Linked DNA regions of Homo sapiens: regions 2 and 3 are each linked to region 1. Evidence: fine-mapped expression QTL. A gene starts in region 1. Each other region holds a variant in brackets. All regions are shown on one strand. Distances are between the middles of the regions. Region 1 holds the start of COQ8A (coenzyme Q8A). Region 2 overlaps COQ8A (coenzyme Q8A). Region 3 overlaps COQ8A (coenzyme Q8A).

What was found. PIP is the estimated chance that this variant, and not a neighbour inherited with it, causes the effect. A credible set is the group of variants that fine-mapping cannot tell apart.
Region 2: its variant is the best candidate, but not a certain one, in a credible set for the expression of COQ8A in whole blood (TOPMed, PIP 0.51).
Region 3: its variant is the best candidate, but not a certain one, in a credible set for the expression of COQ8A in neutrophils (CEDAR, PIP 0.66).

What each region holds. Positions count from the first base shown.
Region 1 is chr1:226,937,725-226,941,895 of GRCh38, reverse strand. COQ8A (coenzyme Q8A) reads right to left here and starts at 1,602. Exons shown (of 15, transcript NM_020247.5): 1 at 1,497-1,602. RefSeq lists silencers at 1,377-1,536, 1,587-1,896 and enhancers at 2,167-2,266, 2,457-2,506, 2,241-2,932.
Region 2 is chr1:226,974,128-226,978,298 of GRCh38, reverse strand. COQ8A (coenzyme Q8A) reads right to left here. Exons shown (of 15, transcript NM_020247.5): 5 at 776-850. Among named protein-coding and RNA genes, the nearest start is that of COQ8A, 36 kb to the right of the region's middle. RefSeq lists an enhancer at 3,858-4,171. The variant G/T (reference allele first, on the strand shown) is at 2,243.
Region 3 is chr1:226,985,308-226,989,478 of GRCh38, reverse strand. COQ8A (coenzyme Q8A) reads right to left here. Exons shown (of 15, transcript NM_020247.5): 14 at 4,139-4,171; 15 at 1,935-3,026. The coding sequence ends at 2,742. Among named protein-coding and RNA genes, the nearest start is that of COQ8A, 47 kb to the right of the region's middle. The variant G/AG (reference allele first, on the strand shown) is at 1,935.

The sequences.
Region 1 (4,171 bases):
CTTTTCCTTTGAGTTGCTCAACATTAGGCCCCAAATCATTACGATTCTGCATAGTCCGCACCATTTGCAAGGCTGAACAAAACACTCTAAGCCATTGCCTGAGCCTTTTTTTTTTTTTTTTGAGATTGAGTCTCGCTCTGTTGCCCAGAGGGGAGTGCACTGGCGCCATCTTGGCTCACTGCAACCTCTGCCTCCCAGGTTCAAGCAATTCTCCCACCTCAGCCTCCTGAGTAGCTGGGATTATAGGCGCCCGCCACCACATCCGGCTAATTTTCGTATTTTTTTTTTTTCGGTAGAGACGGGGTTTCACCATTTTGGCCAGGCTGGTCTCGAACTCCTGACCTACGGTGATCCACCCGCCTCGGACTCCCAAAGTGCTGGGATTACAGGCGTGAGCCACCGCACCCAGCCGCCTGAGTCTTACAGATGCTGCTCCTGTAGCTCCCCTTTTGTCTCTCCTCGGGAGAAAGGCCTTCCTCCAAAAGAAGAGTCTCCCAAGAGCCCTCCTGCCAGGATGACCTACCCATCCACAGCGTGACAACTGGCAGGCTGGCATCAAGGAATGTTCAAATCCTTTGGCAATCAGGTAGGCCTGGCATGACCAGCTACTCAATCCTGTCACGTAGATCCAAGGCCCAAGTGAACGTGCACAAGTTTTTCAACAGGCTGTAGGCCCGACTCAGGCTGGAAGACTGCACACAAGCCTCTCACCCTTCAGGAACCTGACATCTCTCACCCAAATGGGGAGTCCCAACACCCAAACCTGCCCCTGCAGCACTCCCCATCGCCCAAAGAGGGTTTGGCAGAGGGGCTGTTACCTCTGTGCAATGGGTGAGAATGAGCCTCGGAAAGGTTCGAGTTTAGGGGAGTAAGCCCAAACCACTCACAAGACCCCCCAGAGTTTGGAGAAGAGGAAAGGCCAAAGAAAAGCGAAAGGAAGAAAGGATCAAAAAGGATCCCCTGTCCCAAGTTCACACAAAATTCCCACCTGCGAAGCCCAACAGCTGGCTCCAGCCAAGGAAGTCAAAGTTCTCACCCAAACCTGCAGCCAGCGGCAACGAGCCTAGAGCCCCAGACACACAGTGCAAGGGGGTCTGGGAGTGAAGAACAACATTATTAGAAAGCGAAGCATCAAAGCTGTATTGGCGACCAAAGGGCATGGGCAACGGGCATTCGGCAGCGGGAAGGCGGTCGGGCAAGCAGCGGGCGTGTTCCAGGGACCCAAGGCTCTGCACGTGGCCCTCGTCTCCTCCCCGAAGCAGGAACGAGGGGCTGAGGTGGACCCAGGGACGTGAGACGGCTGCAGAGGACCCACCCTGCAACTGAGGCGCCCCCACTGCGTCCGGACCTGAGGCTCGCGGCCAGCGAAACTCGCGGGGAAGCTGCGCTGTCACATGAAGAGAATGCAAGAAGGGCTGAGGTGGGTGTTGACCCCAGCTCTGGCCGCAGCCAGACGGCGCCTGGGCACGCGGCGGGCCGGCGGGTGGCAGCCTTACCTGGCTGCAGGAAGCTGGGATCCGCGGTCACCTTCTAGCCGCCTCCGCGCCCGCCTCTGCGCGCTGGCCACCGCGCTGACGCCCGCCACGCGCTCCGGATCTGTTTACCAACTCGCCCGCTCCGGGGGAGCCCCAGCTCACAAGCCCCGCCCCGCGGGCCGCTCCCATTGGCTGCACCGCCGTCCGCCTGCCGAATGCCGCTCTGCGCGTGGGAGCGTGCTCGGCCCGTGCTCCCGGCCCGTAGCCAATCGCGACCGAGAGCGGAGCAAGAGGAGCCAATGGGAGGCTACCTTAGCGGACAGGGCCCTCCTGTTCTCCTTTTCCCCACCTCCCGGCTACCTTTCTCTCTAGCAAACCGGGGCTGGAGGCCTGGCTTTGGAGTTGCTGGCCTGCGCGCATGCGCCTTGAGAACGGGAGCCTTTTTCACTGCGATGCAGTGTGCGTGGCCGCAAAGGCACCCCTGCGTGCTTGTTGCCTCCAGACTGGTGCTTGCTGGGCCTCTGCGCGGGCCTGGGAGGGGAGGCTGTGGACCAAGCAGACGCGACTGCGGGGCGTGGAGGGTGCCGCCGCTTTAAGGACCGGGCGATGCCTGTTCTTTGCTCCTCTCTATGTAGCAAGAGCCCCTTGCCCAGGGTCCACAAAAAGCACTCCGAGGAGGGGAAACGCGGCGGGCAAGGCCGCGCACTTCCACTTCCGGCCCTTCGGCCGGGGCCCTTCAGGCTAAGGATGCTTGTTTTGTGTGGCGCCATCCTCAAAACAGGAAGCCTCTGCCACCCGCGCCCCGAGGGTAGAGAGATAGTACCCTCACCGGAGTCGCTGTCCGCCCGCCGGTCTCGTCGGCGTGCAGGTGCCCGCAGTCGCTGACAGCCGGGGTTTTGGAGGGCGCGCAGCCAACACGGGATGGAGCTCGGGTGCAGCCCTCGGCGTCCCCGCCGAGCAGCCCTGGGAGGCACCGCCACCAGCAGCACGCAGATTTGCCCCGTCACTCCCTCCTTAACGAGAAAAGGAACGTATGAGCCAAAGTCGGCTCGACAATTTCCACTCAGATGACCCCAAACACTGGTCTGCAGCTCTGTTAATCGTTCTTGTGGAAAAAAGAAATAACAATTTAGTTTTTCATGAAATGAAATACTCAAGCCAAAGGATTGTTCCTTATTCTGAGCCTCCCCCCGCTTTTTTTTTTTTTTTTTTTTTGGTATTGTGAAACGAAAATTCACTCTGCCAAAAGGAAAAAAAATTAAACTGAAAGCTGAGTCATGCAACTGCCTTTCCTTTTGTTCCTAAGCAGATAGCTACAGATTAAAGGTGAAGTATCTCCACTCTATGTTCACCTTATCTTGTGTAAAGTGCCGATTTACTGAGCGCCAAATACATAACTGTTGCCCTACCTGCTCCCTTTATCGCAACATGTGGCTTCAATAATGTGAACATACCTTCCATCTTCCCCCTCCAGCCTGCTTTTCCCCTTTAAATATTGAAGCCCTCAAAATCATCTTTGGAGAAAGGCACAGACCTGTCTTCTGGGCGCGAGTCCTTCACCTTCGCAACATAAATTTCTAAACTGATACAGGTACTTTTCGGTTCACAAATATTGACATTTAACTTAATTGAAAGTCGTTTGTTTTATATTATCACTTGGAAAAATTTAAAGTTAGCTGTTCTATGTTGATGCCTAAAATTGGGGATAGGGGCCTGCTTTATTATAATGAAATCCAGAAGTGAACCTAATTTCACAGTCCCCCATCGGCTCCCCAGAGATCTGCCTGAGTTCCCAAGAACAGAATTCTAAGTGTGTGTGATATGGGCGAACACAAGCTCTGTGTCAGGCTCCGTTCTTCCTAGGGGTAGGGGAGGCCTTTCTTCCAAGGAGAATGGAGACTGTGCCTTGTGGCGTCTGTGGCTGGGCACTGGTCGGCTGTTGGGTGCTCCTCTCTGCACATTCACATGCCCTCCCCGCAGTCCATGTTCTGCCTCCCCCATCTCCACCACACTAAATACAAAGTAAATTTTAAAGGACAATTAAGGAGTTATTTTGGCTAAAGTTTCAAGTAACTGCCCCAAACAGTTGACAACTTGCCTTGATTAGGTCAGCTGGCTCCCTTTCTCCACATAGGAGAAAAAGACCAAGCCTCAAGGCCTTTCAAGGGTGGCCGTTGCTTCCTCCTACAGTAACTGTTCCCTTACACGGTTATGCTGTTCCCTCCCTGTTTCCTCCAAGCTCTCCCAGCCTACTGACCCAGACCACAGTCCATGGAATAAGAGAGTTCCTGGTTCGTTACTTCCTGAATCTTACGAACTCTAGCCCATCAGATTTCAGCTGGATGAGAATGTGATTGTCATCAACTCCTGCTTCTGCTAAGTGGGGGAAGGATGTGGTGCTTCAGTTTCACAAACATGGGGCAGGAATTGGTGGCTTCCATGCTAGCTCAGTCCCACTCCACCAGCAATGCCAAGGCCAGCTTCTCTCCTAAAGTACCTTGAAGACAAGCATAACCCACCACCACAAACATTAGTTTTTCTTCAAGGACTGCCAGTCTGATTTACTAGAGAAATGACCTCCAGCTAGTCTATGCAAAGACAGGATCTTCCTCAAATTAATACGACTTTGACCTTACTCCCTGTGAAATAATGACCTCAGCTTTATTATACTAAAGACACATTTCTTTCTTTCTTGA
Region 2 (4,171 bases), 36 kb before region 1:
GGGTGTGTAAGGAGGTGTGCGGGTGTTCAGTGGGTGCGGAGGCTGTGTAAGCAGGTGTGTGTGGTGGGTGTGTAGAGGGTGTGTAAGGAGGTGTGCAGGTATGAGGTGGGTGTGTGGAGGATGTAAAAAGGTGCGTGGGTGTGTGGAGGGTAAGATGTGTGGGTGTTTGGTGGGTGTGCAGGGGGTGTGTGACGTGTGCGGGTGTTCGGTGGGTGTGCAGGGGTAAGGTGTGCGGGTGTTCGGTGGGTGTGCAAGGGGTGTGTAAGGTCTGTGGGTGTTCGGTGGGTGTGCAGGAGGTATAAGGAGGTGTGTGGGTGTTCAGTGGGTGTGCAAGGGGTATGTAAGGTGCGGGTGTTTGGTGGGTGGGCAAGGGGTGTGTAAGGTGTGCGCGTGTTCGCTGGGTGTGGAAGGGGTAAGGTCTGCGGGTGTTCGGTGGGTGTGCAGGGGTTGTGTGTGGGTGTTCAGTGGGTGTGCAGGGGGTGTGTAAGGTGTCCAGGTGTGCAGAAGGCGTGTGGATGTGCAGGCAGCCAAAAAGAAGGGGCTGGGTGGCCACTTTGGGCTGGGAGGAGGAAGGGCCTCCAGCCTCACCCCCTCTAAAGCAGGTCAATCTGTCTGTATGAACAGCCTCATCACCCCAGGGACGCCACTTACGTGGAACCCCATGCAAATGCGGCCCAGCTGGCTGACACTCCCAGAGCACAGGTGGGGCTGGGGGCTGACAGGCTCAACCCTCCCGGGGCCCACCCTGCCCCTCCCACTGAAGGGCCCGGCTCACCTGAGGGGTCCTCGGAGCGCAGGCTCTTCTTGGCGACCTCTGCCAGTGCCCCGAAGCCCAGGCCCACGGCCAGACCTGCAAGGAGGAGGGGGCGGGCACTCAGTGCTCACGCAGGGCTGGGGCCACCCGCTCGCCCACCCACAAGGCCTGGGGCAGCACCACACAGACACCGCTTGCACCAGGGGCCCTCGCTGCCACACCAGCATTTTGAAAAGTGGGGAACAAGGTGGGAGATGCCACCTGTTGTTTTAAGAGAACATTTGGCTCGAGGTAGGTGTTTCAGTGAAAAAGATTCAGGAATCCCCCACTCCACACCATCACCTTTGATAATTCACAGGCTCACGGGCACACGGACACCCCAAAGTAATGCCAGCTGGGAAGCACCTGGGAAGGACCCAGCACAAATGGGAAGACGGACCAGGGATGGTCCACAGACCAACGTCACCCCGACCACACAGGGCACCCTGAGAACACAACCACCCGCTTCAGGTCTGTCTGAAGAGCCTCCCATCACCTAGACTTCCCTAATTCACTGGAACAGGAAAGGTGTTGCCACAGGCATACAAAGCACTTGGTGGTGAGAGTGAGAACACTTTTGGCTCCCCCTAATCCAAGCCAGGGGAACTCGCGGGGCTCAGGCGCAGCCCTCGCTGGGTAATGGAAGGCCCTCTCGCCCACCTTGCCCTTTCTGCGGGGCTGGCAAACACTGACATCTGAGGACCGTGGGGTGCCAGGCCTTCCCATTATCCTCTTTCACAATCTTCCGAATCAAGGTCCACTAACACCTCATTTATCCAAAAATCAGTCAATGAATGATCCCAGCTGCTCAAGAAAGCCACTCCCCACCCCTGCCCAGGAGCCCAGAAGGTGCCACTAATGCCACACCTCACCCAGGGCCAGTATTCTCTTCCTTTATACCCAGCTGTAGCTGGCTTTCCGGGTAGGCATGGGTGAGCAGAAAGAGGGTGAAGAGCACCTGGCTGGGCACGGTGACCATGGCCGGCAGGGCTGAGACCAGAGCGGCCGCACGATGAGCCGGCCTCGGAGAGCCCCGCACCCCGCACCCGGGCAACATCGCAGCCCCGCAGCCCCGCAGCCCCGAAGCCAGGCAACATCGCAGTCCCACAGCCCCGCAGTCCCACAGCCCCGCAGCCAGGCAACATCGCAGTCCCACAGCCCCGCAGTCCCGCAGCCCCGCAGCCCGGCAACATCGCAGTCCCACAGCCCCGCAGTCCCGCAGCCCTGCAGCCCCGCAGCCAGGCAACATCGCAGTCCCACAGCCCCGCAGTCCCACAGCCCCGCAGCCAGGCAACATCGCAGTCCCACAGCCCCGCAGTCCCGCAGCCCCGCAGCCAGGCAACATCGCAGTCCCACAGCCCCGCAGTCCCGCAGCCCCACAGCCAGGCAACATCGCAGTCCCACAGCCCCGCAGTCAGACAACATCGCAGCGCCACAGCCCCACTGCCC[G/T]GCAGCCAGGCAACATCGCAGCAGGGGGCTGTTGGGGGAGAGGGCTCACACCAGGACGCTCTGTTTAAGGCGCAAGGAAACTGGCATCTGCTTGCATGTTTCCAAATTCTCTACAGTGATTATGCATGACTTTTATGAAAAATACAGAACTTGTTGAAAATTTAATGAAAAGTACATTTTAAAACTAAAAAGAAGACAACTCAATTTTTAAAAAAATGTTTTTGCGATACATTTTTACCCACACCTGGGCAACAGTGCACCCTCCACGTCCCCAGCAGTCTGGGCAGCCCCTGCCTCACAGGCTGTCGTGCGGGCGTGAGTAGAGCACTCGCCGGGCCAGGAACACACAAAGGCCACACAAGCAGCTGCTGTTGTTCTCGTGACTCTATTCAAAAAGGCTGGGCCGGCGCAGAACAAAAGAAATAGAAGGCAAGCCACACATATAATTGTTACTTTTCTAGCAGCCACACTGAAAAAGGCAAGAAGAAACATGCAAAATGAATTCTAATAGTATAATTTACTTAATATACCCAAAATGTTATCATTTCAACAAGTAATCAAAATAAATATTATTAGAGATATTTTGCACTTGTGTGTGTGCACAAAGTCTCCAAACACCATGTGTGTTTTATACTCAGCACATCCCACTGTGGACCAGCCGCATTTCCAAGGCCCCGTGCGGCTGGCGGCTCCGTACTGGGCAGCATGGGGCAGGATAAGCTGAGCCTCCTGGCCCTCAGGAGTGACAACACACATGGTACAGATGTCTGCTGTGTTGGGATGGGGGTGCCTGGCAGGTACATCAGCTCTTTCTCTCGCTGTAGAAAGCCCTGGGCTCAGAGCTGGGAGACACAGTCCCCGTTTAAACATTAACTCCCTGATGCCTGCCCACCTCTGCCCTGCCAGCACTCGAGCACACGATCTGACTTAGCGAAATAAACGGAGACAGGCAACATTAGCCTGTGCACTGCAGTGACCTTCACCAATGTCTCTCTGTGTCTGGATTCTTCTCTGCCTGAAGCAAGTCCAGAGACAAGCCCACGAGAGGGGCAGGTGGATCCACAGGTTACCGGAGATGCCACAGCTGTAGGGTGGGCCACATTGAGCTCCTCCTTCTGCAGGCAGAGGTGTGTCCCCCTCATCACCCTCCATCAGGACCCCCCTCAAACTGTTCTCTGGCCACTTTCAGGCACACAGCTCTCCACTGGCAAGGACCTGTTATTAAACAAATGACCAAAAGAACATTCCACAGAGGAGGCCTCAGGCCCCACACGTCCCTCAGGACCGACCAGCCCAGTGCCAGGCCAAGGCGCTGCCCACTGACAGACAGGCAGGCTCCCCAGGGGACAGAAACCAGCCCAGCTGGCCAGCAACCCTGACCTTGGCCTCACGAGCTCCTGCACCAGTGAACCCAGAATAAACTGAGGCCCTCCCGCCCCAGACTCAGCGCATTGCTCAGGAACCCAGGCCAGCCTCTGCCCTCCATTAGAACCAGCCAGCACTGGAGGCAACTCCAGAAGATGAGCACCTCAGCCGGCACTCCCCGGGTCCTCGTGGGACCCCACTCGGCACCCCCACAGCCCTCAGGACACCTCACACCTCTCCCTGCTCAGATCCACATTCTAAGAGCGCCCCCGGCTTGGCCCACGTGGCCAGCAAGGTCGTCCTGGAGGAAAACCAGCCCCAGCACAAGCTCCAGGCTCTAAAGCCACTGTGAGCAGCCTTGCTTCCCTCCTGGCCTGTTCCAGGAAAGCTTCTGACATGTTTCTCCGAGAGAAGTTATGCAATGAAGGAATGACAGGGGAGGGAGGGGCAGGCTCTCCCCCAGGCAGGAACACAGGCTGCAGGCCAACCTCCTATGACTTCTGGAGCCCAGTCCCCCACAAGGCCCCATCCTCCCAAAAGTCCCTCTAGGAGGTCATCAGAGCC
Region 3 (4,171 bases), 48 kb before region 1:
TTTTCTGGAGTTAGAATGGTTCATCTAAGAACATACAGGGAAGGTCCAGGGGTGGGGTTAAAGGAACTCCTGAACTGGTGGCAGCTAAGTAGTTATTCGGAGAATACTTCCGGTTCCAATGGCCCATGGAATTGACATTTGTGGCTGATACTGTTATGTTGGTTTACTGTAGTGTCAGCTGTGCAGTGCTTTAGAACAGGGCTTGGCAACCCTTTTCTGTCCAGGACCAGTTAAGAAATCCTTGTGCCTTTGTGTATATAGTTTGCTGCAGCTCCCCGGCTCTGGCATTTCAGTGCAAAAACAGTCTTAGCCTGCTACGTACATAAACGAGAGTGGCTGTGCCCCAATAAAACTTACAAAAATGCAGTGGGCCAGATTTGGCCCTTGGACCATCATAGTTTGCCAGCCCTTCGTTTGGTCCCCTTAGTGTAGACTGTAAGACTAGACTGTCTTGTTCCAAATCCTCATTCTGCCACTTAACCTCTGGGCCTCTTTTTTTTTTTTTCCCTCTGTAAAAAGGCCCACTTGGAGTGTCAGGAGTTAATGCACTCAGAATCTAACTTCTAGCCTATGGTTTAGTGTTTTGTCCTTATGAGTAACCGCCAAAGCCTACAGTAACAAATATTTTTTTGTTGTGTGGTGTCCAGCCCTTCACTAGATGTTAGGGACACGAAGACACAGACCCTGGGAAAATCAAGCCATGATTTGCCATGTTCTCATGCCCCATGTCTCAGTGTGAATGGGTGAGCACGGGGAGTCATTCATCACAATACTGTAAAAATCAAAATAGGTACAAAAGAATAAGTATGTGTGGCCAGCTTCAGAGCCAGCTTTACTTGGGGATTAAAGTCATTTGCAATCCAGTGATCCCCACTGTCTTCACAGGGAGGGCTCTAGTTCTCAGCCGGCTCTCAGACTTAGGACACACAAACCACATTCCAGTTTTCCCTTAGAAAACTTCTCCTGTTCCAGCAGTTATGGTCGTGGTTCCTGGGGAAGCAAATGCTGGCTGCTGTTGTTCTCCTCTCCCTTCCCCCCGCATGCTGCTGCTTGACTTGTTTGGCTTGTTGTTCAAGAGGAAGAGGAGACTGTGAGAGCCCTGGCTGGGGCTGGCCTGGGTTCTTCCCCTGCTGTTTACTCTGCAGGGCGATGGCTTCAGATCTGAGTGCTGCAGAGGAGTTTGCTAGACAACAGCAAATACCCTTAAGAAGAGGGCCACAAGAGTTTCAGCCAGGGATCTGACAGTGGTGCTGGGCGCCGCTGCTAGCCAGGCAGCCTCACGGACGCCACCCAGGCCTCTCCATCCTGTCCCGGAGCCCACTGGGTCTGCTACTCGGCAATCCCAAATTTCAGAAACTATATTTTCTTTCTTTAAGAACCCTGAAAGCCTATACCTCTCAAAGCCTCTTTTGGGCCTGTGCATTCTGCAGATGCACTTTCAACTGCTCACAGGTCCGTAGAAAGGGCCCCAGCTCAGTGTCCAGTGTGTCCTGTTATCTAGGAATCAGTCTGGCCCCAGGAAAAGCCACTTTTCAGGACGTGGTCCTCAACTGCAGCTGATGTCTAGAGAGGAGACGTCTCACTGTGATGCAGACCTGGCATCAGCCGTGCTGGCAGGTGTCACTGTCCTCCCAGTTGCCACCATCACCAGGTACAGCAGCTTCAGCAGTGTGGTACAGCCTCCCGGGGGCTGGGGCAGTGACACCGCAACCTCTCCTCCTGTTCTCCACCCCTCCCACCTCCCTTCTTACAGGGAACGGGGCTGAGCCTTCCAGGTTCAGGGCCAAGGGCCTCACGCTGAACCAGTCCCAACCCTTGCAAATGGGCTGTGACACTGAACCTGCTGACCGTCAGGTCAGAAAAGAACCACCACCACGAGCTAGAAGATACGGGTCGTCATTCTCCAGAATACAGAAGAGGGTACACGCGCCAAA[G/AG]CACTTCCCATGAGCATTTTTATTAAATTGAAACAAGTTGTTGATTCGATAATTACAAGACTTGTACAAAAATTCACAGCGCCTGTGAGGAGCCTTTGGCTGGAACTGGTGACACCTGTGCCTCTCCGGACAGAGGAAGGAAGTCCCACCCCGCCTTCCAGCAGCAGCGAGCCTGTGTCTGGCATTCCCTGTTCCGCTGCTCCCACCCTCACTGTGGGGCAGCAGTTCTTTAGGAACATTCAGCTGTCAAAGGTGAGAACCAGCCCCACAGGCCTGGGCCTCGCAGGCTTAAGGAGCACTTGTTGGCACTGTTAGCTCAGCACCTCTCCCAGCTCCAGCCCATCGGCTGGAGAGGAAAAGGGCAGAAAACACAAATCTCACTCTAGAAACACATACACACACCTACTACACAGATGATAAAATCCCACAATCGTATCTGTTCATGTTTCTGGGTTTTGCACTGAACAGAGATTGGAAGGGAGTAAGGACTCTCTCCCTTCTGCTTAACATTCACATCAGGAAAAAGAAGAAAACAAAGTTGCCCTTTCATCTTCATCTGCTTATTTCAGAGGACACACGGAGGCAGACTGACCGAGCAGTGGGGCTTCATCTTCATTCTTGCACTTCTCACCCTACAACCATTTAGCAACAGAAACCGTGGAAAGCGCTGGCTACGGGGCTCCAGGCAGCCACCCCCCTTATTGGGCAAAGGAGTTAAAAAGAGCATCACCACGACCTCGCTACTGGTTTTTGGCCTGTCTGAGGGAGAGAGTTCCCGCGGAGCCGGCCTGGGCGTGGCCCGCAGCCCTACTGCTGGGCCTGCCTCTTGCAGTAGTTGCTGTAGGCCTCCTCGAACATGGCCTTGCAGGGGAAGCGGGCCTTCAGCTTGGAGCAGATGAGGAAGGAGCCCCCCATCTTCCTGTGCAGGGAGTAGGTTTCCTCGGGTGGGGGGACGAGACGGTGCCTCAGCATGACGGGAATCAGGTTGTGGATCTTCTCGGTGGTGCTCTGAGTGCCAAAATCAAAAGGCTCATCAGAGGCGAAGGCCTCCCCCAGGATGAGGATGGCATCCAAGTGGGCGTCTTCCATGACCTGGGGCAAGAGAGGAAGGATAAATGGCGGCGAGACACCAGAGCCCTCCACCAGCCCGGGTTCCTCCCACAGTGCCCGGGGCGCTGAGTTCTCATTCAAAGCTCTGCTGTAAACTGGATTACATCATGGTAATGGGCATAAACTCAAACCCACAGGGGCCGGGAACACGAGGGTAACATGGACTGGGCTGATGTGATACAAAAGGGAGTGGCGGGGCCTGTGGCAGAGTGCAGAGGATGCGTCCCGCCTCGTGGCACTCATACAGAGTTTTAACAAAACACTGTTCTGGCCAAAAAGAACAGAGTCCGTGGGCCTAAGCTGGCAGGGCCTCCCACCATGCGTGTCTGAGCCTGCCAGAGTCCACCCAAGACACACCCAGCAGCCGTGTGTCTGCCCACGGGAACTAGCAACCTAAGGAAGCCGCCGCCAGCAGAGCAGGGGAGAGGAGCTGCCGCCAGGGACAGCCCAAGGTGGTCAGAGGGACGGGGCGGCCAGGAATCGAGTCAGTGCGAGTGGCCATAAGGAAGAGGCGGGAGAGAGCTGCTGCCCGCTGAGCGCTTACAGCTGAGATAAGGGGGGCTCAGAGATACTGACAAGCCTCAAATGACACTCCTATGAGACGGCAGACCCAAGGCTTGACCTGGATTTCTTTAACTCCTTCCCCACTGTCAAGCAGCAAGCGGAAAATGCCACTTTGTGGGTGGCTTCAGGCGGCACCAGCACAGACCGTTCCCCTTTATTTAAAAGGCTTCTAAGGTTTCTTCCAACTCCCCCCAGGGAGGCTCGATGAGGGGAGGGCTGGGGCTTCCCTTCCCACTTGCTCTGCACGTTGGCTCAATCGAGGCCCAACCCCAAGCCCTAAGTGGGCAAGAGTGAGAGGCAGAAACAAGAGCTTCACGACAAGTCCCCAACTCACTGGCCCACTCGGAAAATCTCACGCTCAGCAGGGCAGCATGGGCCGGGGTGGGCCCCAGCTTTCAGACCGTGCCCAAGGAGGCCCGGGCTCTGGGGGCCCCTTGAGGGCAGCTGCCCCCTGTGCTTTCATCCATTCTTACACAGGGAGCCGGGCCCTGGGTCAGCAGGCCCAGGGGATCCCCCGCAACCCTGCTCACCTTGACCTCGTAGCCGGTGAGGAACTTCATCTC